4 linked regions of the Homo sapiens genome follow. The protein of the gene in region 3 purifies or fractionates together with the protein of the main gene of each other region. This does not show direct contact. Each region holds a gene or a part of one and is shown on either strand. Other genes may lie near its edges.

Evidence for each region. The genes of interacting proteins can lie anywhere in the genome.
Region 1: the proteins of TM4SF5 (region 3) and SLC31A1 purify together in Homo sapiens (affinity purification with mass spectrometry; one large-scale study listed by BioGRID and IntAct). This does not show direct contact.
Region 2: the proteins of TM4SF5 (region 3) and CYSTM1 purify together in Homo sapiens (affinity purification with mass spectrometry; one large-scale study listed by BioGRID and IntAct). This does not show direct contact.
Region 4: the proteins of TM4SF5 (region 3) and HSDL1 purify together in Homo sapiens (affinity purification with mass spectrometry; one large-scale study listed by BioGRID and IntAct). This does not show direct contact.

Annotation. Positions count from the first base shown.
Region 1 is NC_000009.12:113,223,434-113,228,683, forward strand, and holds part of SLC31A1 (high affinity copper uptake protein 1), read left to right. Parts: intron 1-5,250.
Region 2 is NC_000005.10:140,180,578-140,185,827, forward strand, and holds part of CYSTM1 (cysteine-rich and transmembrane domain-containing protein 1), read left to right. Parts: intron 1-5,250.
Region 3 is NC_000017.11:4,773,720-4,778,969, forward strand, and holds part of TM4SF5 (transmembrane 4 L6 family member 5), read left to right. Parts: intron 1-5,250. UniProt on the Homo sapiens protein: Acts as a lysosomal membrane arginine sensor.
Region 4 is NC_000016.10:84,124,270-84,129,287, reverse strand, and holds part of HSDL1 (inactive hydroxysteroid dehydrogenase-like protein 1), read left to right. Parts: intron 1-4,559; coding exon 4,560-4,658; 3' UTR 4,659-5,018.

The DNA of each region.
Region 1 (5,250 bases), on a different chromosome or scaffold from region 3:
AACTCACTCTGAGTTTGGGCCAGGCTCCCTAAGCACTGTAAAATGAGTGGATTAGACCTGGACTTCTACTGAGTAACTGCTGGGGATACAAAGGTAAGTAAGGCACAACCTTGATCTCAAGTTTAAAGTAAGCATTTTTGTTTATTTGTTTTGCTTAAGTATACAACTTTTAGAATACTCATAAAATATATTGTCAACCCCCAGAAGATTGGCCAGGAAGCAGCAATTTTTTTTCTCCACCCTCCACTCCCCTTACTCCCTCAGGGAAGCAGCAATTTTAATAATTATTTTCAAATTATCAGCAATTTTGCAACAGAGATGACAGTCTTTATATACGAGTATACCCATACTAATCTGTAATGATGCATGCATTTTAAAATTAGTAGTTTAAAGTTATAACCAAGTTATATCAGGCATAATGATAGGAATATGAATTAAATGCAGGTTCTAGGGGATCTATAACATTCCGTTCACTCAGTCACTGAAAGCAGACTTAGGGCCATTAGTTGGTTAACTGAAGAAGTAAGTTAAAGCAGGGAATCATACAGATAATAGTTATATGCATAACATTTTAACGAACACATAAACATTCTTTTGCCATTCTTTTAACATAAGGCCTCAGCCTTTTCTTGGAGTGTAGGACCCTGTTGCCTGTTTTTATAAGTAAAGCTTTATTAGAACACAGCCTTTCTCATTTGTTTATGTATTGTCTATGACTCCTCTTACCCTCCAAGGCAGAATTGAATATTTGTGATTGCAACAGAAACCACATGGCCTGCAACATCTAAAATGTTTACTTTTGGCCCTTTATAGAAAGAGCTTGCTAGCCCCTGGCCTACGTTATCTATGGTATTTTTAACATGGAATGAATACTTAAAGTCACTTGCAAAGCAGTCTCACTGCAGAATCTTTCTAGGTGTTTATGAAATGTCCTTCCAGACTTTTCTGTTGTCTCCCACACCTAACAGCAAGTTTATGTGTTATCTGTATGCTCACTTTTTTTTTTTTTTTTGAGACAGAGTTTCGCTCTTGTTGCCCAGGCTTGAATGCAATGGCACAATCTCGGCTCACCACAACCTCCACCTCCCGGGTTCAAGCGATTCTCCAGCCTCACCCTCCCGAGTAGCTGGGATTACAGGCATGTGCCACCATGCCCGGCTAATTTTGTATTTTTAGTAGAGACGGGGTTTCTCCATGTTGGTCAGGCTGGTCTGGAACTCCCGACCTCAGGTGATCCACCCGCCTTGGCCTCCCAAAGTGCTAGGATTAGAGGCGTGGGCCAACGCACCCGGCCTTGTGTGCTCACTTTTATCTGGTCTTTCGAAAGCATTCAGTGTGGTGTTTTAGAAATAACTACTAGAGAGTCTATGTAGTACAGTAGTTAAGTACTTGAGCTCTGGAGCCAAATTGCTTTGCCACTTATTAGTTGTATAGGCCATAGACAAGTTACTCAGTTTTTGCCTTTGTAAAACAGGCATAATGGTAGTATCCATTTCTAGGTTTCTTGTGAATATTATAGGAGTTAATTCATGTAAAGCATTTAGAACAGTGCCTGGCAGGTAGTAAGTACTCAGTGTTAATTGCTGCTGTCATTTTTCTCTTCTCATTTATACTTCATTGCTTTACATAGTATTTACGTACTTTCAGTAATAAGCACAACTGGCATAAATAGGTTTGTGAATAAACACACTGTCACCATTGATAAGCACACTTCACAGAGGGGGAACCAGAAGTGTTGTTCCCATCACATTGGAGAATAGCCTAATGGTGTGATGTCAGTTAAATTGGATAAGAGAGTTCTGTGGGATAGTTTGCTAAGAGTATAAGGCAACAGTTCACAGAAGAAAGTAATGGATTAAAATTGAAAAGGAATCCAGGACCATATTTGTCAAATACCTTGAAGGTCAAGGTGACAAGTTTGTACTTAGATTGGTAGGAAGTGGAATTTTTTATTCTAAATGGCATGATTGATGTAAAAAAGTTCAAATGGCTTAGGAGTGTATGAAGTAAAAAGTTACATTTCCCTAGCTCCATTCCATGTCAGTAGCCACTTCATTTTCTAATGGCCCCTAGAACATGAGGTTGTTGTGAAGGCATGGTAAACACCACTTGGGGCACTGGTATTAATCTGTTAAAATTTTCAATTCAGCTTTCCTTTGGATTATAATCTCAATTTTGAATTGAGAAAAATAAAGTTTCCATACTAAATGTGAATAAAATGAAATGACTGTTTTGAAAGTAGATACCATACTCATAAGAGTCTTTGATTCCTAAGTCTTTCTCTACCTCTTTTGTCCAACTTGGAAGTCTTGGTAGAGAAGGACTTAGGAATCAGAGACTCATCTCTACTGTTAATTCCTTTTTGCACCTTTCCCACCAGAAGTGCTACAAGAGAGAAAGATGATATAATAATCACTAGAAAAGCAAAGTGTTCGGCCAGGTGTGGTGGCTCCCGCCTGTAATCCCAGCTCAGGCAGATCACCTGAGGTCAGGAGTTCGAGACCAGCCTGGCCAACATGGTGAAACCCCGTGTCTGCTGAAAATACAAAAATTAGTCAGGCATGGTGGCGGGCACCTGTAGTCCCAGCTACTCAGGAGACGGAGGCACGAGAATTGCTTGAGCTCCGGAGAGGCGGAGGTTGCAGTGAGCTGAGGTCACGCCACTGTGCGCCAACCTGGGCGACAGAGTGAGACTCCATCTCAAAAAAAAAAAAAAAGAAATAAAGAAAGCAAAGTGTTTACAGTGACAAGTTGATTTCAACTAGCAGTTGTCAGTTAAGTTAGTAACAGGGCATCACCCAAATAACTGCATTTTAAAGTGGACAGGGCAGGCCTGACTGGGGAAAAGGGAGGGAAGGGGTAGGGGGTTCCTGATGCCTGTACTCCCACATGCAGCTCTTAAATCCATTTTAAAAACTTAAAAGTTTTCTGTAGTTTTGTGACTTAAGTATAACAAGTCATCAAAAGTCTGATACTTAATACATTACAATGAACAGTTTATGCCAAAAGAAATCTTATAGTAGGGCCTGGGAAGGAAATGCTTTTGAAGTTCCATTGCTTTGAGTAATATCATTTTATGATTTAGGTAACATCCCCAAGCAGAGGAGGGGCCCATCCTTAGGAATGCAAAGCCCTGCAGAGAAGGAAAGGGTTGAGAAGGGTCCACCCTACCTCTTTTCCTTTACACAATGGCCCTAGGCTTTTGTATACAACCTGCTTTTGTAGGCTTAGGACATTATGAAATACAGCATGGTAAGATGGAAGCCTGAATCTCAAAAGTAAATATGAGAAATGATTTGGAGGGAACATATAAAGAGAGCAAAATTCTAGCAACAGGTGACATATTTCCCTAGATAGAAGAGTTATTGTAGAACTATGATGAGTGTTTATATAATTTTGAAGCAGTTTACAGCATCTAGAATGTAGTCATTTAATTTATGAAATGAAAGGGAAATGGTGTAACTCATACACCCGCATCCTCTCTCCTACCTTTTCTGATGGCTTTTTATGAGTTCTCACACAACCCCTATGCATAATCTATACCTTAGTACATTTTACATTATTTTTAAATTATTTACATGTGTCCCTCTTTCACCAGAATGGGTTTCTTATGGTTAGAGTTTCATCATGGTACCTTCATTCGATAGGTATGCAATAAATAGTGAAAGAATAGTCTGAGTTCCTTGAAATTGCATAGCAAATGAGACCTAAGAGCCAGATCTAGAATGCAGATGTAGAACCTCTTTCAGTTCCTAGCCCAGTACTTTTACTGCCACACCATACAGCCTCTATCTGAGATATTGAACAATTTTTTTCTTTTTTCTTTTATTTTTTCTTGAAACAGGATCTTGCTTTGTTGCCCAGGCTGGAGTGCAGGAGCACAATCTCAGCTCACTGCAACCTCTGTCTCCCAGGCTCAAGCAATCTTCCCATCTCAGCCTTTCGAGTAGCCGGGACTACAGGCATGCACCACCACGCCCAGCTAATTTTTTGTATTTTTGATAGAGTCGGGGCTTTGCCATGTTGCCCAGGCTGGTCTCAAACTCCTGAGCTTAAGCAGTCTGCCCACCTTGGCCTCTTAGAGTGCTGGGATTACAGGCATGAGCCACCATGTCCAGCCTCATTTGCATTCTTGTACTGCATTTTCATTAAATCATTCAAGTTCCTTTTATCTTGTGTAACATATTTAATTGCATTTTCCTACTGAATAAAAAAAAGGGAACAGTTCAAATGTTTTCTAGTTTCTGTCTTATGCCATATTAATTTCCAATATTACTCATAGGCAAACCAACAACATTATTATCCAAACAGTTTAAATGCTATGTAATATAACTAAAGCAAAGTTTAGACAAGGAGGACCATTGTCTACATTTGATTATAACAATAAAGCAGTTAAAGCAATGCTTTGCCAATGTATATTTGTCTGACTAGCTAGTTTTGTTTAAATCAAACTGTGAAAGGCTGTATACTTCAAGAAACATGAAAGTGAGCCTTATGTGTGACTTAGTTCCTTTCAGAGATTAATTTTGTCATCTAATGAGCAAGCAAGCTATTATATTTCATATTTACTGTACCTTAAAATTGGAAAGTATTTAACATATTTTATTTGACCCTTACAATACTATGAGATTGGCAGCGTAGGTATTTTAATATCTGTTTTGCAAATTTTGCAAATTTTGGTGATTTGCCTAATGTCACATGGCTAGTATATGGCAAATGTGGGTCCAGAGCTCAGAGCCTTTGATGCCTCGTGCTGCATGCTTTCTCCACTCTAAGATACTATCTAGAAAACACTGAAATTGTCACATAAATCATACTAAAGCACAGTTAGCGGACTGGAAGTGCGTCAAGGCTACAAAAGGATCCTGTAAGAGGAGCATGAAAGGGTGCATCATGTGATTACATTATTCCAGGATGTGGCTTACCCAACAACAAAAGGTATCACAGAAATGGAGTAAAGTAGCTGGGAGATCCACTCCCCATTGGACTTAGGCCCTGTTATCATTACATAACTAAAAGACCTTTTCAGTTTGTTTGTTTGACATATCAAATTTGAGTTGTCCTATTAGAACCAGGCAAATAAAAGCTTTTGTAAAGGCCTTTGGAAGAATGTAGTTGTACACTTGATCTTCTTTGTACAGAAGGGTGGGAGTGGGCAAGAGAAATAGGAGCTTCTATGTTATTTGCCACCAGAACAGGATATGTAAAGCTCAGAAACCCATCCTGCTTAGCTGCTTCCCAGCAAGCCAT
Region 2 (5,250 bases), on a different chromosome or scaffold from region 3:
ACACAAAGGAGTCTTCAAAAGGAAGTGAGCTTGGAATGATTCCTTTATAGCTTTTAGGAGATGTATGTGGAATATTATTATTGATTTAGGCCTCCAAGTCAGATCTTGGAAACTGGGTAGGTCCTCACATCTAAAGCAAAGGAGACAAATGGTTTGAATCCAGTCTCTGTGGGCAGCAAGCTTGTGGTATGACTTTGCCAAAACAACAGATGATTTATATTTTTCTAAACTCTTTTCATTAAATGGTTTAAGGGAGAATATTGATGGTCATGGTGGGAGGAGGGTTTGATCTACCTGAATTTACTCACTGAAGAGTAAATGCCTTATTCAGAGGTTCCTATCACTAGTTTCCTGATTATTTGTACTAAAGAATCATTAGCCAGTCTCAAGAGCATTGGCTCAGAAAACATCGTAACTGAAAACTATCTAGGCATGCTTCTTATTCAGAGAAAAGTAGGGATGGGAAACAGTTGAACTACAAAGACATTTGGGGAGAGGAAGACCTGGGAAATGGTGCTAGACTTCTGCCACGTTAAACGTTTAATGCTGCACGCAGTACTTTACTGGTCAGCTTTCAGTTTCAGAATCTTAGGCAGAGTCAGTTGGGGAGAAAGTGTGTGAAGAGGGGGACATTTGTAAGAATGTGGCTATTCTGTGAGCCCTTATTGTTAAGTCGAATACTTAGTGCTTTCCTGCTGCCACTAGCTTCCTGGACACTCCAGACTTTGCCCTTCTGCCTCTTCCCCACTAACAGCCTTTCCTCCCCAACACCACCCTCTCTAAAGCCAATCTAATCTTTGATCGCAGTTTCTGCACCCTTCTGGCTCTGCTAACTTTGTTGAACTAATTTTTGGTGGCCTTTAATGTCTGGTGGTGGCTGTGTGAGAAACTAATGAGGGATAATTGTATTTACTTACTGATTATTATTTTGCTTTAGGGACAATCTGCCAGACTGGAGTGCATGGCATGATCATAGCTCAGTGCAGGCTCAAACTCCTGGGCTCAAAAGATCTTCCCACCTCAGTCTCCTGAGTAGCTAGGACTACAGGCACATATCACTGTGCCTGGTTAATTTTTTATTTATATTTCATAGAGATGGGGGTCTCACTATGTTGCCCAGGCTGGTCTCAAACTCCTGAGCTCAGGCAATCCTGCTGCATGAGCCACTGCACCTGCAAGAGCCACGGGGGCCACTGCCACTGCAAGATAGCAGGACCCCCGTCTGTATTTTTTGCTATGTTGACTAGGTCTTGCTATGTTGACTAGGCCATTCTTAAAGTCCTAGCCTCAAGGGATCCTCCTGCCTCAGCTTCCCAAAGTGCTGGGATCACAGGCGTGTGACACCACCTTCGGCCGGGTAGTTGTATTTAAAGGGAGGGTCTTGAAAGTAAACCCTAGTGTTTTTCACACTTCATTTGTGTTCCCCTGCATGATTTTTGTCTTATCTTTATGTCATCTGTACTGTTGTTTAACATTCTTCTTAAAGTTGACCCATTTTTTAAAACCCTAAAATTTGTTTAAAAGGGAAACGATATCATTGCCTTAAACTGATAACTACTACATCACCTGTCACAAATAGAAGGTATAAATTATTGAAGTTGTTTGTCCATGTTCCCCAAGTTCCACATATCCCACCTGGGGCAATACAGCCTTTACCCAAAGATATGACTCACTAATAGTGAGTTTTTCAGGCAGCAGTAGATGGGTGGTAGGATGGTTTGGAGTAGGCAGGCCTTCAGAGAGGGCCCCTTCAATCCTATCTTTTCCTAAAACTTGTGTGGTTCTATGATACTAGGAAGGCCACAGAATGAAGAATCTAGGAGGTAACAAGAGGTAAATGCAATGTGAAACCACTTCTGTTTTGATCTGAAGTTTGCCAAAAAGAGGCCTGAGTGGTGGTGAGGCTGTATACTATATTAAATTCTAGGCCCTCTGCCAGGGGTGTGGCTTCATTGATGCTGTGTTACATTGTTCTTTCTGTGCCAGCGTGCTCTTAGAAAACTCAGATTCTCCTGGGAAACTCAGATCTTTCTTGGGGGGCAGGAGGGATGCTTTTTTTTTTTTTAACTCATCAATAACCCAAACTACTTTGAGTTCCTTTCACATATAGAGAACTGTTTGTGGATGTTGCTAATGATAGAAACTGAAGTTATCATCTAGAATTTTTTTCCCCCAATCTTCATTGTCCGTAAAGCCTATTCCTTTAAGAATCCTATGAAAACAGAAGAAAGGGGGAGGGTGAGCTGCCCTGGGTTGTATGGTCTCTTAGGGTGCAGCACATGATAGGCATGAGTGGTACTTCCTGGTTTGATGTGAAATTCACTGTTGTCCATTAAGAGCCACCCCGCAGTGCTGACTGAGCTGCTGCTCCCTCAGAGGGTCAGGAGAGCGTGCTTTCATGATGGAGCAAAGCCAGGCTGGCTTGGTATTCATCAGGAACCAGGAGCGCTTAGTTAAATTGCCAGCACGTTAAGCTGTAGGGGCCTCTTTCTAAATCATCAAGATTTCAACTTTCCCACAAAGCCTAATCTAATGCTCTGGGAGGAGGCAGGCAGAGCCTGTCTTTCAGGGGCTGGGCTGGCAGGGGACCTGGCCTGGGAAGTGGCCTTATCAGGCTTGTTGGGAGGGATGGACCTGTCCCTTTCTAGTGTGTCCTCTCAACTTGGCAGGGGGCAGAGTTCTTCCCTTTTCTCTCTCTCCATGCCCTAACCGCTCCTTTCAATTCCCCAACTCACTTTCTGTGTTCACAGCTTTCTTCCCTTTTCCTTTCCCTTCTGTTCAATACTGCCCTCTCTTTTGAGCCTCTCTCTTGCTGGGCCCCATTTTCTCTCCATTCTCACTTTGAGGGTTGACTATTTGAAGTTCCAATTATAATGCTGTCCTATATGTCCCAGTGACTAGATGTAATTCAGAGATCCCTACCCTATTTTTCTGAGGAGAAGCCAACCTTCATTTCTCTACTGGCTTTCAGATAGCAGTGTTGGTGGGGTACTGACCAGAGTCCCTGAACTGAGTGGTTGGGTGAGGCTGGATGTGCTCCTCCCCGATATGGGGGTCCCAGCAGTATGGGGAAGGTATTATAATCAGGGTTTGCTGACAATGCCAGGATCCATTAGACAAGGGGCTGAGGCTTACCTGTGGGGACCCTTCCATAAGCTGAATGCAGAGGGGAATACTGCATCCAGGCAGTCCTCTAGCTTTTGCAGAGGACCATACATGATGAATGAAGGCTGGAGAAGGAGCCCTTGGGTGAGGTTAGCCTGGAACCCACAGGACTATTTGCAGCTGTGGATCCTGCCCTGAAGCTAGGTTTTCCCAGGTAGCAACTGGACCAAATTGTCTTCCCATGTGGTTAGATGGATTGTTGGAAGCATCTAGGAGCATGGCTTTCCTGCTTAATGAGTTAAAAAATTGATTATTTTCTTGTAAAAGCCATGTGGCTACTTTACCTAAAGATGATTAGCAAGGGTTTTAACTTTCATTGTTAAATATAACATATGTATAAAAAAGTATGTATAATGTACAGTTTAATCAATAATTGTATTCATTAGTGTAACTGTGTGATCTATTCAGGTTTAGAAATAGAAGTTTATTTTTAAACCCAAATGGGGTAATAGAATGCACTGTGTTGCAATTTGTTTTTTTCCCACCATGTTGGTGCTTTTTCATATCAGCACAGGTAGTTCTAACTTATTCTTCTGAAGCGTCATATAGCAGCAGTTCCATGGATTGGAAATACCATGGTTTATTTAACCATTCTCATATTGATGAACATTATATTTAATATATATGCATGTGTATAAAGTTGGGTTTTTTTTTTTTGGCATACCGGCTGGCACTAGTATATATCTGTAAGATAAATTCCTAAAGGTAGAATTGCTCGTTCAAAGGATAGGGTGTTTTTATGTATTTATTTGGGGTTTTACTTAAAAATATGTCTTTATTGAAGAGTTTATAAGAAAAAAGGATAGACCCGCTATAAAAAGAAAGGCTGTCTGCTCTAAACATTAGGGAGGAATGGGACACCAATACCTGGTGGCTAAGGATAGGTCATTTTAGTTGTTGATATTTTCAGGTAGTAATGTCTTTTTTCCCAGGAATGTTTATAAATGTTATATCTTACAGAGCACCAAGCCCTGGATCCAACTAGAGGTTCTTTACAGAAAGCTTTATGGAGAAAGGTTTTAGCAGATGATATGTTATCCTCTGTTGAAGGGAACTTCTCTGAATTCCCTCAGAAAGTCTCTAAGTCTGGAAGAATGCTAAAATGTACCTACCAAGTTTAGTATTGGAGGGAGACAAGATTGACTGTAGTCACATTTTCAAATAATTCTGAACTATGGATAATTAATGTAGGTATGGTATGACTTTTCAGAATTTGCTGTTCCTAATCTATCAGGACAAGTTGAGAATACTTACATCTTTGTGTTATCTTAATGTTGGGGATAGCGGCTTAAAGCAATTATCTGAATGGCATTAGCAAACTATGTTACTAAATAGTTTGTAGATTTTTAGCTTCATATGAACTCAGTTATAAAAGCAGTGTGTGGTTTTTGTATCAGATATTTTTTGTGAGAAAGGAAAATAAGACAGTCTCTGAACCTCTTCATCACTCTGGGCCAGGGCCTTCAGAGGTAGATGATCCATTGTTAGTTTTTGCCTTCCATGTGCACTTTGATGCCCTTGTTCAGCGAAAGGTCCCATATCTGAGCTGTGTATCATTTTGTACTCCATAGAGGGGCTATTGTGAAGCCACAGCCAAAATGTTGATACAAAAGATACGTTCTAATACTTATTCATTCATTGACTATATGAGAATAGCTCAGGGCCTGGTAAAACTCTGGCAAACAAGAGATATTGAATGAAGTAGGGGATGGCTAATGATATTTGGGAGGTTGAGACCAGAATCAGTATTTGGACAATAATGGAGTAATACTGCAGGTTGTCTTCCTCCAGTCTGTCCCTAAAAGAAGAGCAATTTAGAAAATGGCAATACCCAGCAATGTGTTTAAAATGCTGAGCAAGTCGTAAAAAGAAATATCTTGTCCACGTTATGCTGACTATCAGAGGTCTCCTGGTGTTGCACTGTTACTGGGAGCACTGCTACCATCTTTAAAAATGTAAATCCCTGCTATTGCTATCCCCCTGGGGCTCCTGTGTTAAAGTGTCCATATCAGGAGCAAGTTCTTCCTAGGAGAAGGCCTACAGTTCTGGAATGCCTATTGTTGTGACTTTGGCCTTGGGTTTAAG
Region 3 (5,250 bases):
TTTGAGAGTCACACTCCTCTCAGGCTGACACACTTAGCCATTGTCACGGGGTGCTCCCTCTGCAACCTGAACCACCCCTGTCTCCCCACACTCCTCTGCCCCATCTAACCAGCTTGCTTCAGCGGAGCTCCCTGAGTCTGCCTTCCCCAAATATGCATTCACAGCTGCCTTCCCTCCACCTCTGTGCCCAGAGTCACTCTCAAGAAGCACCACCCGGTGGGCATGGTGGCTTACGCCTGTAATCCCAACACTTTGGGAGGCCGAGGCGGGCCAATCACCTGAGGTCAGGAGTTCAAGACCAGCCTGGCCAACATGGTGAAACCCCGTCTCTACTTAAAGAAATATACAAAAATTAGCCAGGCATAGTGGCGGGCGCCTGTAATCCCAGCTACTCGGGAGACTGAGGCAGGAGAACCCGGGAGGCAGAGGTTGCAGTGAGGCGAGATTGCGCCATTGTGCTCCAGCCTGGGCGACAGAGCAAGACTCCATCTCATACATAAATAAACAAATAAATAAGCACTGCTGTATATCACAGGGACACAGACAGGTTCCTGCTCTCCCTGAAGCTTGTGTTCCCTTTGGTAAGGCCACCAGTCTCACGGAAGCAAGGCTGGAAGTCCCACGAGAGCAAGCACTGCCTGCTTTGTTGGCCACTATGTACCCAGTGCTAGACCAGCACCTTGCACTAAACAGACACCCAATTAATAGTCATGGAATGGCAGCGTGTGCCTGTAGTCCTAGTTTGGGCCCAGAAATGAAAGATTGCAGTGAGCTATGACCACGCGCCACTGCACTCCAGCCTGGGCAACAGAGCAAGACCTTGTCTCAAGAAAATAAAAAATAAAAAAGTCATTGAATGAAGTATAGAACTAGGCAAGGCAATTTCAGATAGAAGTAGGTACCATCGGCCGGGCGCAGTGGCTCATGCCTGTAATCCCAGCACTTTGGGAGGCTGAGGCAGGCGGATCACCGAGGTCAGGAGTTCACGACCAGCCTGACCAACATGCAGAAATCCTGTCTCTACTAAAAATACAAAAATTAGCCAGGCGTGGTGGCGCATGCCTGTAGTCCCAGCTACTCAGGAAGCTGAGGCAGGAGAATTGCTTGAACCCGAGAGGCGGAGGTTGCAGTGAACCAAGATTGCACCATTGTACTCCAGCCTGGGCAACAAGAGTGAAACTCTGTCTCAAAAGTAAAAAATAAAAATAAAATGAAATGGTGCTGGCATGAAGAGCTCCTAGGCAAAGCAGATGCCACTTTTTATAGGATTTTCAGGGACAGGCTCTATGAGGTGATGTCTGAACTGAGACCCAAATGACAAGAAGAAGGTGTGAGTGTTGCAGACACTAGGGGCTGGTAGTACAAAGCCTAAGGTGGGAACAAGCTCTACACTTCTGAGGATCAGACAGGTGGCCGGTGAGGTGAGATGTAATGAGATGAGGTCTGAGGAGGGCAGAGGCTAGGCCTGGAACACCCTGAAAAGCCACAGTGGAGTCATTTGAATTTTTATTATTATAAGTACAACAGAAAACTATTGAAGGACTTTTTTTTTTTTTTGAGACGGAATCTCACTGTGTCGCCCGGGCTGCAGTGCAGTGGTGCGATCTCGGTTCACTACAAGCTCCACCTCTTGGGTTCACGCCATTCTCCTGCCTCAGCCTCCCGAGTAGCTGGGACTACAGGCGCCCGCCACCACGCACAGCAAATTTTTTTTTTTTGTATTTTTAGTAGAGATGGGGTTTCACCGTGTTAGCCAGGATGGTCTCGATCTCCTGACCTTGTGATCCACCCGCCTCGGCCTCCTAAAGTGCTGGGATTACAGGAGTGAGCCACCGCGCCATGCCCTATTGAAGGACTTTTGGCACTTTGTTTTTTGACGGTTTAAAACTTTTTATTTAAGTCACACAGACAAGTACCCAGATCCTTAGTACACAGCTCAACAAACTTTTACAAAGTGAGCACATCTGAGCCCAGGTCAAGAAACAGATCATTACCAGAAGCCCAGACATGCTTCTCACCACACACGGAACCCCAGAATCACTTCACCAACAAGCGTAACCACTATTCTGTCTTCTAACCCCATAGACGAGTTTGGCTTATTTTGCACTTTACACAAATGGAATGATAGAGTATGTGTCTGGCTTTTTTTTGAGACGGAGCTGTTGCCCAGGCTGGAGTGCAGTGGCGCTATCTCAGCTCACTGCAACCTCCGCCTCCCAGGTTCAAATGATTCTCATGCCTCAGCCTCCAGAGTAGCTGGGGTTACAGGCATGAGCCACCACGCCTGGCTAATTTTTGTATTTACTTTAGTAGAGATGGGGGTTTCGCCATGTTGGTCAGGCTGGTCTCGCACTCCCGACCTCAGGTGATCCACCCACCTCGGCCTCCCCAAGTGCTGGGATTACGAGCGTGAGCCACCGCGCCTGGCCTGTGTCTGGCTTCTTTAGCTCCATATTACGTTTGTGAGAGCCACCCATATTATCAGGTGTAGCTGTAGTTTTCTTTTTTTCTTATACATTCTATTATGTGACTATACCTCATTTATACATTCTACTGTTTGTTTGTTTGTTTTTTTGCTTTTTTGCTTTTTTGTTTTTTTTGAAACAGAGTCTCGCTCTGTCACCCAGGCTGGAGTACAATGGCGCCATCTCGGCTCACTGCAACCTCTGACTCCCAGGTTCACATGATTCTCCTGCCTCAGCCTCCTGAGTAGCTGGGATTACAGGCATGTGCCACCGTGCCCAGTTAATTTTTGTATTTTTAGTAGAGACGGGGTTTCGCGATATTGGTCAGGCTGGTTTTGAACTCCCAACCTTAGGTGATCCGCCTGCCTCGGCCTCCCAGAGTACTGGGATTACAGGCATAAGCCACTGTGCCCGGCCCATTCTACTGTTGAAGGAGATCTGGATCATTCCCAGTTTGGTTTTTTTGCAAATAATGCTGCTATAAATATTCTTGTAGATGTATTTAGGTACAAATACGTGTGCATTTCTATTGGATAAAAACCTAGCAGTAAAACTGCTGATTCTTAAGACATGCAAGTATTCAGCGCTAATAGATATTGCCAGTTTTCTGTAGTTCTTAGTGTGAGAGGTCTGGTTGCTCCACACGCCACTGGAATGAAGAAGACTCCTTTGACCACTGTGTGGAGAATGGGTAGTAGAAGGTCTGCAATATATACAGAAAAAGACCAAACTGAGCTGGGCGTGGGGCCTCAAGCCTGTAATCCCAGCACTTTTGGAGGCCGAGGCCAGCGGATCATGAGGTCAGGAGTTCGAGACCAGCCTGACCAACATGGCGAAACCCCGTCTCTACTAAAAATACAAAGTTAGCAGGGCATGGTGGTGCATGCCTGTAATCCCAGCTACTCGGAAGGCTGAGGCAGGAGAATCTCCTGAACCCAGCAGACAGAGGTTACAGTGAGCCGAGATCATGCCACTGCAATCCAGCCTGGGTGACAGAGCAAGACTCCATCTCAAAAAAAAAAAAAAAGAAAAAGAAAAGACCAAACTGAGGTCACGGAAGACATCCAGGAGAGATGAGAGTGGCTTGGACTAGGCCAGTGGCTATGGAAATGGAGAAATATGAGCTGATTCAGGCTATAAGCACAGTGTTTTCTTCTTCATTTATGATGACACTTTTCACTAAGACAAAAAGATGGTGAAGAATGAGACAGAGAAGCACATACTACAAAGGGAAGCAAACACTTTAATCAAAAGAGTAAAAATCTCAAATAGGGCCAGGTGTGGTGGCTCATGCCTGTAAAATCCCAACACTTTGGGAGGTGGAGGCAGGAGAATCGCTTGAGTCCCAGCATTCAAGACCAGCCTGGGCAACATAGTGAGACTCTATCTCAACAAAAATTTTAAAATTAGCTGGGTCTGGCCAGGTGCGGTGGCTCACACCTGTAATCCCAGCACTTTGGGAGGCCGAAGCAGGCTGATCAGCTGAGGTCAGGAGTTTGAGACCAGCCTGACCAACATGGAGAAACTTTGTCTCTACTAAAAATACAAAGTTAGCAGGGCGTGGTGGCGCATGCATGTAATCCCAGCTACTCGGGAGGCTGAGGCAGGAGAATCACCTGAACACGGGAGGCAGAGGTTACAGCGAGCCAAGATCGCGCCATTGCACTCCAGCCTGGGCAACAAGAGCAAAACTTCGTCTCAAAAAAGAAAAAATTAGCTGAGTGTGGTGGTACAAGCCTGTAATCCCAGCTACTCTAATGCTAAGGTGAGAGGATCACTTGAGCCCAGGAGGTCGAGGCTGCAGTGAGCCATGATCATGCCACTGCACTCCAGTCTGGGCAACAGTGTGAGACCCTCTCTCAAACAAAAGCAGAAACCTCAGACAAGTAGATCATTCAAAATTGGTAAATCCAAAAGGCAATTCTAGGTGTGTTTGGATCCACAAGCCTCCAGTAAGTGACCTAACCAGGGAGGTAAAGTAAGGTGTCAGCATGGGTCCTGGCCCTGCCATGAGACAGGAAGAAGAGAGAGCAGGTGTTTCTCTGAGGTTGCTGGGGATGATATAATAGAACTGAAACTCTCAGCCCTTTCCCTGGAGAAGCACAAAATGCTGCCTTGGATGGTATGTGCCAGATAAGACACATGAGGAGCCAGGCACAGTGGCTCATGCCTGTAATCCCAGCAATTTGGGAGGCTGAAGCAGGAGGATTGCTTGAGCCCAGGAGTTCGAGATCAGCTAGGCAACATGGTAAGACATGAACTCTCCAAAAAAATTAGCCAGGCATGTTGTTCCGCACCTTTAGTCCCAGCTACTCGGGAGGCCGAGGTGAGAAGATCATTTGAGCCCAGGAGGTTGAGGATGCAGTGAGCCATGATTGCACCACTGCATTCCAGCCTGGATGACAGAGTGAGATCCTGTCTCAAAAAGCAAACACACACACACACGAAAGCAAGAAGCAAGACAGCTGTGGAATTCCAGAGATAGGAGACAGGCAAAGAACCTGACCTGGTGCAACGAAGATAAAGGTAACGGAGCCAGATGAGGAGGCTTAAATGCCTTACAAGAGTTAGGCGTTCAAGTTACAAGTCTTGGCCAGGCGCGGTGGCTCACGCTTGTAATCCCAGCACTTTGGGAGGCTGAGGCAGGCGGATCACGAGGTCAGGAGATCAAGACCATTCTGGCCAACATGATGAAACCCCGTCTCTACTAAAAATACAAAAAATTAGCCCGGCGTGGTGGCATGTGCATGTAGTCCCAGCTACTCAGGAGGCTGAGGCAGGAGAA
Region 4 (5,018 bases), on a different chromosome or scaffold from region 3:
CTGCCTCAGCTTCCCGAGTAGCTGGGACTACAGGCACCTGCCACCACGCCTGGCTAATTTTTGTATTTTTAGTAGAGACGGGGTTTCACCGTGTTAGCCAGGATGGTCTTGATCTCCGGCCTCATGATCTGCCTGCCTCAGCCTCCCAAAGTGCTGAGATTACAGGCGTGAGCCACCGTGCCTGACCAAAGACACTAAATTTTCTTTTGTGAAATTATTACCTTAAGAATTTTCAAAAGTTCAATCTATGTGGCACCTTAAAGTGAAATATACTACTTTGGCTGGGGTGTGGTGGCTCACATCTGTAATCCCAGCACTTTGGGAAGCTGAGGTGGGTGGATCACCTAAGGTCAGGAGTTCGAGACCAACCTGGCCAATATGGTGAAACCCTGTCTGTACTAAAAATACAAAAATTAGCTAGGCTTAGTGGTGTGTGCCTGTAGTCCCAGCTACTTGGGAGGCTGAGGCAGGAGAATCGCTTGAACCCTGGAGGCGGAGGTTGCAGTGAGCCAAGATCACGCTACTGCACTCCAGCCTAGGCGACAGAGCAAGGCTCTGTTTCCAAAAAAAAAAAAAGAAATATGCTGCTGTAAGTGGATGTTAGGACTATAAAAATACTAAGTATTTACATGGGAATTTCAAAGTAAAAGATTCTAGTACTGCTTGAGGGTTACCTCTCAGTGAAAAATATAATCCAAAAAAACCACAAAACCACAAGATAGGGCTATATTTCATGCAACCATTTTATCAAATAATATCTCTGTATAGTCTTAGACTAATTTTTTCAAGAAGCATAGAATTTTTATTTTAAGCTTATTGTTTAGGCATGACAAAGGATTGGTACCTTTTAGTACTGTAGAAAGTAACTTTCTTAGATATTTGAAATTGTGATCGTAAGTATTAATTTGAGAATGCATAATTATCTATTACAATATATTTCAGTTCCTTTATCTGGTGTAGTAAAGAGATGTGCCCTAGTTTAGAATTTTTTTTTTTTTGAGATGGAATTCCGCTCTTGTTGCCCAGGCTGGAGTGTAATGGTGCGATCTTGGCTCACTGCAACCTCCACCTCTCGGGTTCAAGTGATGCTCCTGCCTCAGCCTCCGGAGTAGCTGGGACTACAGGTGCCTGCCACCACGCCCAGCAAATTTTTGTGTTTTTAGTAGAGATGGAGTTTCACCATGTTGGTCAGGCTGGTCTCGAACTCCTGATCTCAGGTGATCCACCCGCCTTGGCCTCCCAAAGTGCTGGGATTTACAAGCGTGAGCTGGCAGGGCGTGGTGGCTCAAGCCTGTAATCCCAGCACTTTGGGAGGCCAAGGCGGGCGGATCACGAGGTCAGGAGATCGAGACCATCCTGGCTAACACCGTGAAACCCCGTCTCTATTAAAAATACAAAAAAATTAGCTAGGCGTGGTGGTGGGCGCCTGTAGTCCCAGCTACTCAGGAGGCTGAGGCAGGAGAATGGCGTGAACCCGGGAGGCAGAGCTTGCAGTGAGCCGAGATCACACCACTGCACTCCAGCCTGGACGACAGAGCAAGACTCCGTCTCACAAAAAAAAAAAAAAAAAATACCAGTGTGAGTCACTGTACCTGGTCCGAATTTTTTTTTTTTTTTAATATTCGGAGTTTTCTTAATTATCAAACAGATATTTTTGGGACTGTTTGCATGAAGAGTATTAGATTTGCCACTACCAAATAAACATGTAAGTATATCAACAGTTAATTATGACTTTTATGAAAAGTGAGAGATTAATAAGAAGCAGTTTTGGTCGGGCGTGGTGGTGGCTCACATCTCTAATCCCAGCAGTTTGGGAGGCTGAGGCTGGTGGATCACCTGAGGTCAGGAGTTCGAGACCAGCCTTGCCAACATGGTGAAACCCCATCTCTACTAAAAATATAAAAATTAACTGGTCATGGTGGTGCACGCCTGTAGTCCCAGCTACCTGGGAGTCTGAGGCATGAGAATCGCTTGAACCCAGGATGCGGAGGTGGCAGTGAGCTGATCACGTCACTGTACTCCAGCCTGGGTGACAGAGCTAGACTCTTATCTCAAAAAAAAAAAAAAAAAAAAAAAAAGAAGAAACAGTTTTATTTAAGTAGTTGTTTCCAGGTCCTTTAATTACTTGAGAAAAGCAGAGAAACCTAAAAAGTAGTCTTAGAAGTCACTGACCATAAAATTTTTTTAGAAATAAAGATATGAGGATCAGGTTTAGGTGCAGTAGATGTTTTGACTGTGTTTATAAAACACGAACAGTTTACTCAAAATTAAATTTTGTTCACATTGATAAACTTTCCTTGAGAATGTATTTTTCTGCCAAGAAATTCTGTTAAGCTGATTTAATTCCTGGAGTAGTTTTCTGTATAAAGTTGTTAAAACTTTCTGTTTTCATTTTATGTTACTCAAATTATTTTCAACACTATCATTTTTTATTTCCAATTTTACATCAAAGATTTGATTCATCCTTTGCTGTTTTGTCCATGGCATATTTCTCTGATAGCTTTTGCTGCTGTGATTTTGTTCACAAAGTGCGTGAGTGTGTGTGTGTGTGGGTGTGGGTGTGTCCTCCCTGGAGAGTAACCTGTGTCCATTTATTGACAAGAGGATTGAATGACCTCTATTATCATTCATCAGTTCAGTTCAAGACTAGAATGTCAGTACTTGCCAAGGGCCTGTCTCTCTTCTCTTTCGTATACACGGTGTTAGAACTTTCATTCGGTTCTGAACAAATCTGTTAGAGGAGTGTAGGCTTTCTCCACCTCAGCACTGTTGGCATTGAGAGCAGGTAATTCCTTGACATGGGGAGCGTCCTGTGTATTGTAGGATGTTGAACACCATCCTGGGCCTCCACCCACTAGATACCAGTAGCATCCACTCCCAGTGTGACGACCAAATTTGTTTTCAGACATTGCCCTATGTCTGCTGCTAGCACAAAGGCCCTGAGTGAGACCCTGAAGCAGAGCAGCATCAGCAGGACTCCCTTCCCTGGTCCCCTGAGCACCCCCATCATAGGTCAAGATACCATCCCAAGGTACTGGTGTTTCTGACCTGTTTTCTTGTTGAACTTTGTTCCATACTACCCCTCAAGCCCCAGTTTTCTCATAGAGTACTAACCACGTATGCGTCTGTCTGTTCCAACTGATTTATTCCTATAATGATTTTGTGGTGTTTTTTTTTTTTTTTTTGAGACAGAGTTTTGCTCTGTTGCCCAGGCTGGAGTGCAGTGCCGCGATCTCGGCTCACTGCAAGCTCCGCCTCCCCGGTTCACACCATTTTCCTGCCTCTGCCTCCTGAGTAGCTGGGACTACAGGCTCCCGCCACCACGCCTGGCTAATTTTTTGTATTTTTAGTAGAGATGGGGTTTCACCCTGTTAGCCAGGATGGTCTCGATCTCCTGACCTCATGATCCACCCGCCTCGGCCTCCCAAAGTGTTGGGATTACAGGCATGAGCCAGCGTGCCCAGCCGATTTTGTGGTTCTTAACCAGTGAACATTTTGTTCATATCACGTTAAGTAAAGACAGAATTGTATTTACATGCAGGACAGTCCAGCCTCATTACAGAAAGTCGGGTAGGTGGGTGGTGGTCATGTTTCTGTTCCATGTAGAATCTAGGGTAAGATCTTAGGCAAAAGTAGGTATTCAGTACAGTAGTACCTGGAGGCTTTTTCCTTTGTTGTATTTAATGTGATTGGTGGGTATTTGTTGTGACTGGTGGGTATTTGTTGTGATTGATTGGTGGGTATTTGTTGTGATTGATCGGTGGGTATTTATTGTGATTGGTGGGTATTTGTTGGGATCGATTGGTGGGTATTTATTGTGATTGATTGGTGGGTATTGTGATTGGTGGGTATTTATTGTGATTGATTGGTGGGTAATGTGATTGGTGGGTATTTGTTGTGATTGATTGGTGGGTATTGTGATTGATTGGTGGGTGTTTGTGATTGGTAGGTATTTGTTGTGATTGATTGGTGGGTATTTGTTGTGATTGGTGGGTATTTGTTGTGACTGGTGGGTATTTGTTGTGATTGATTGGTGGGTATTTGTTGTGATTGGTGGGTATTTGTTGTGATTGGTGGGTATTTGTTGTGATTGGTGGGTATTTGTTGTGATTGATTGGTGGGTATTTGTTGTGATTGCTTGGTGGGTATTTGTTGTGATTGGTGGGTATTTGTTGTGATTGGTGGGTATTTGTTGTGATTGATTGGTGGGTATTTGTTGTGATTGCTTGGTGGGTATTTGTTGTGATTGGTGGGTATTTGTTTGATTGGTGGGTATTGTGATTGGTGGGTATTTGTTTGATTGGTGTGTATTGTGATTGGTGGGTATTTGTTATGATTGATTGGTGGGTATTTGTTGTGATTGGTGGGTATTTGTTGTGATTGGTGGGTATTTGTTGTGATTGATTGGTGGGTATTTGTTGTGATTGGTGGGTATTTGTTGTGATTGATTGGTGGGTATTTGTTGTGATTGGTGGGTTTCATGTGCTGGTCTGTGTACTTGTTCCTTCAGTGTTGATTTTGGGTTCTAACCTTACAACCTTTTTCTCTTTCATTTTTAGTTTCTTTTTGCACAGTATATGCCTGAATGGCTCTGGGTGTGGGGAGCAAATATTCTCAACCGTTCACTACGTAAGGAAGCCTTATCCTGCACAGCCTGAGTCTGGATGGCCACTTGAGAAGTTTTGCCAACTCCTGGGAACCTCGATATTCTGACATTTGGAAAAACACATTTAATTTATCTCCTGTGTTTCATTGCTGATTATTCAGCATACTGTTGATTCGTCATTTGCAAAACACACATAATACCGTCAGAGTGCTGTGAAAAACCTTAAGGGTGTGTGGATGGCACAGGATCAATAATGCCTGAGGCTGATTGACGACATCTACATTTCAGTGCTTTTTCCCTAAGCTGTTTGAAAGTTACGCTTTTCTGTTGTTCTAGAGCCACAGCAGTCTAATATTGAAATATAATATGATTTGTCAGGTCTTATAATTTCAGATGTTGTTTTTTAAGGGAA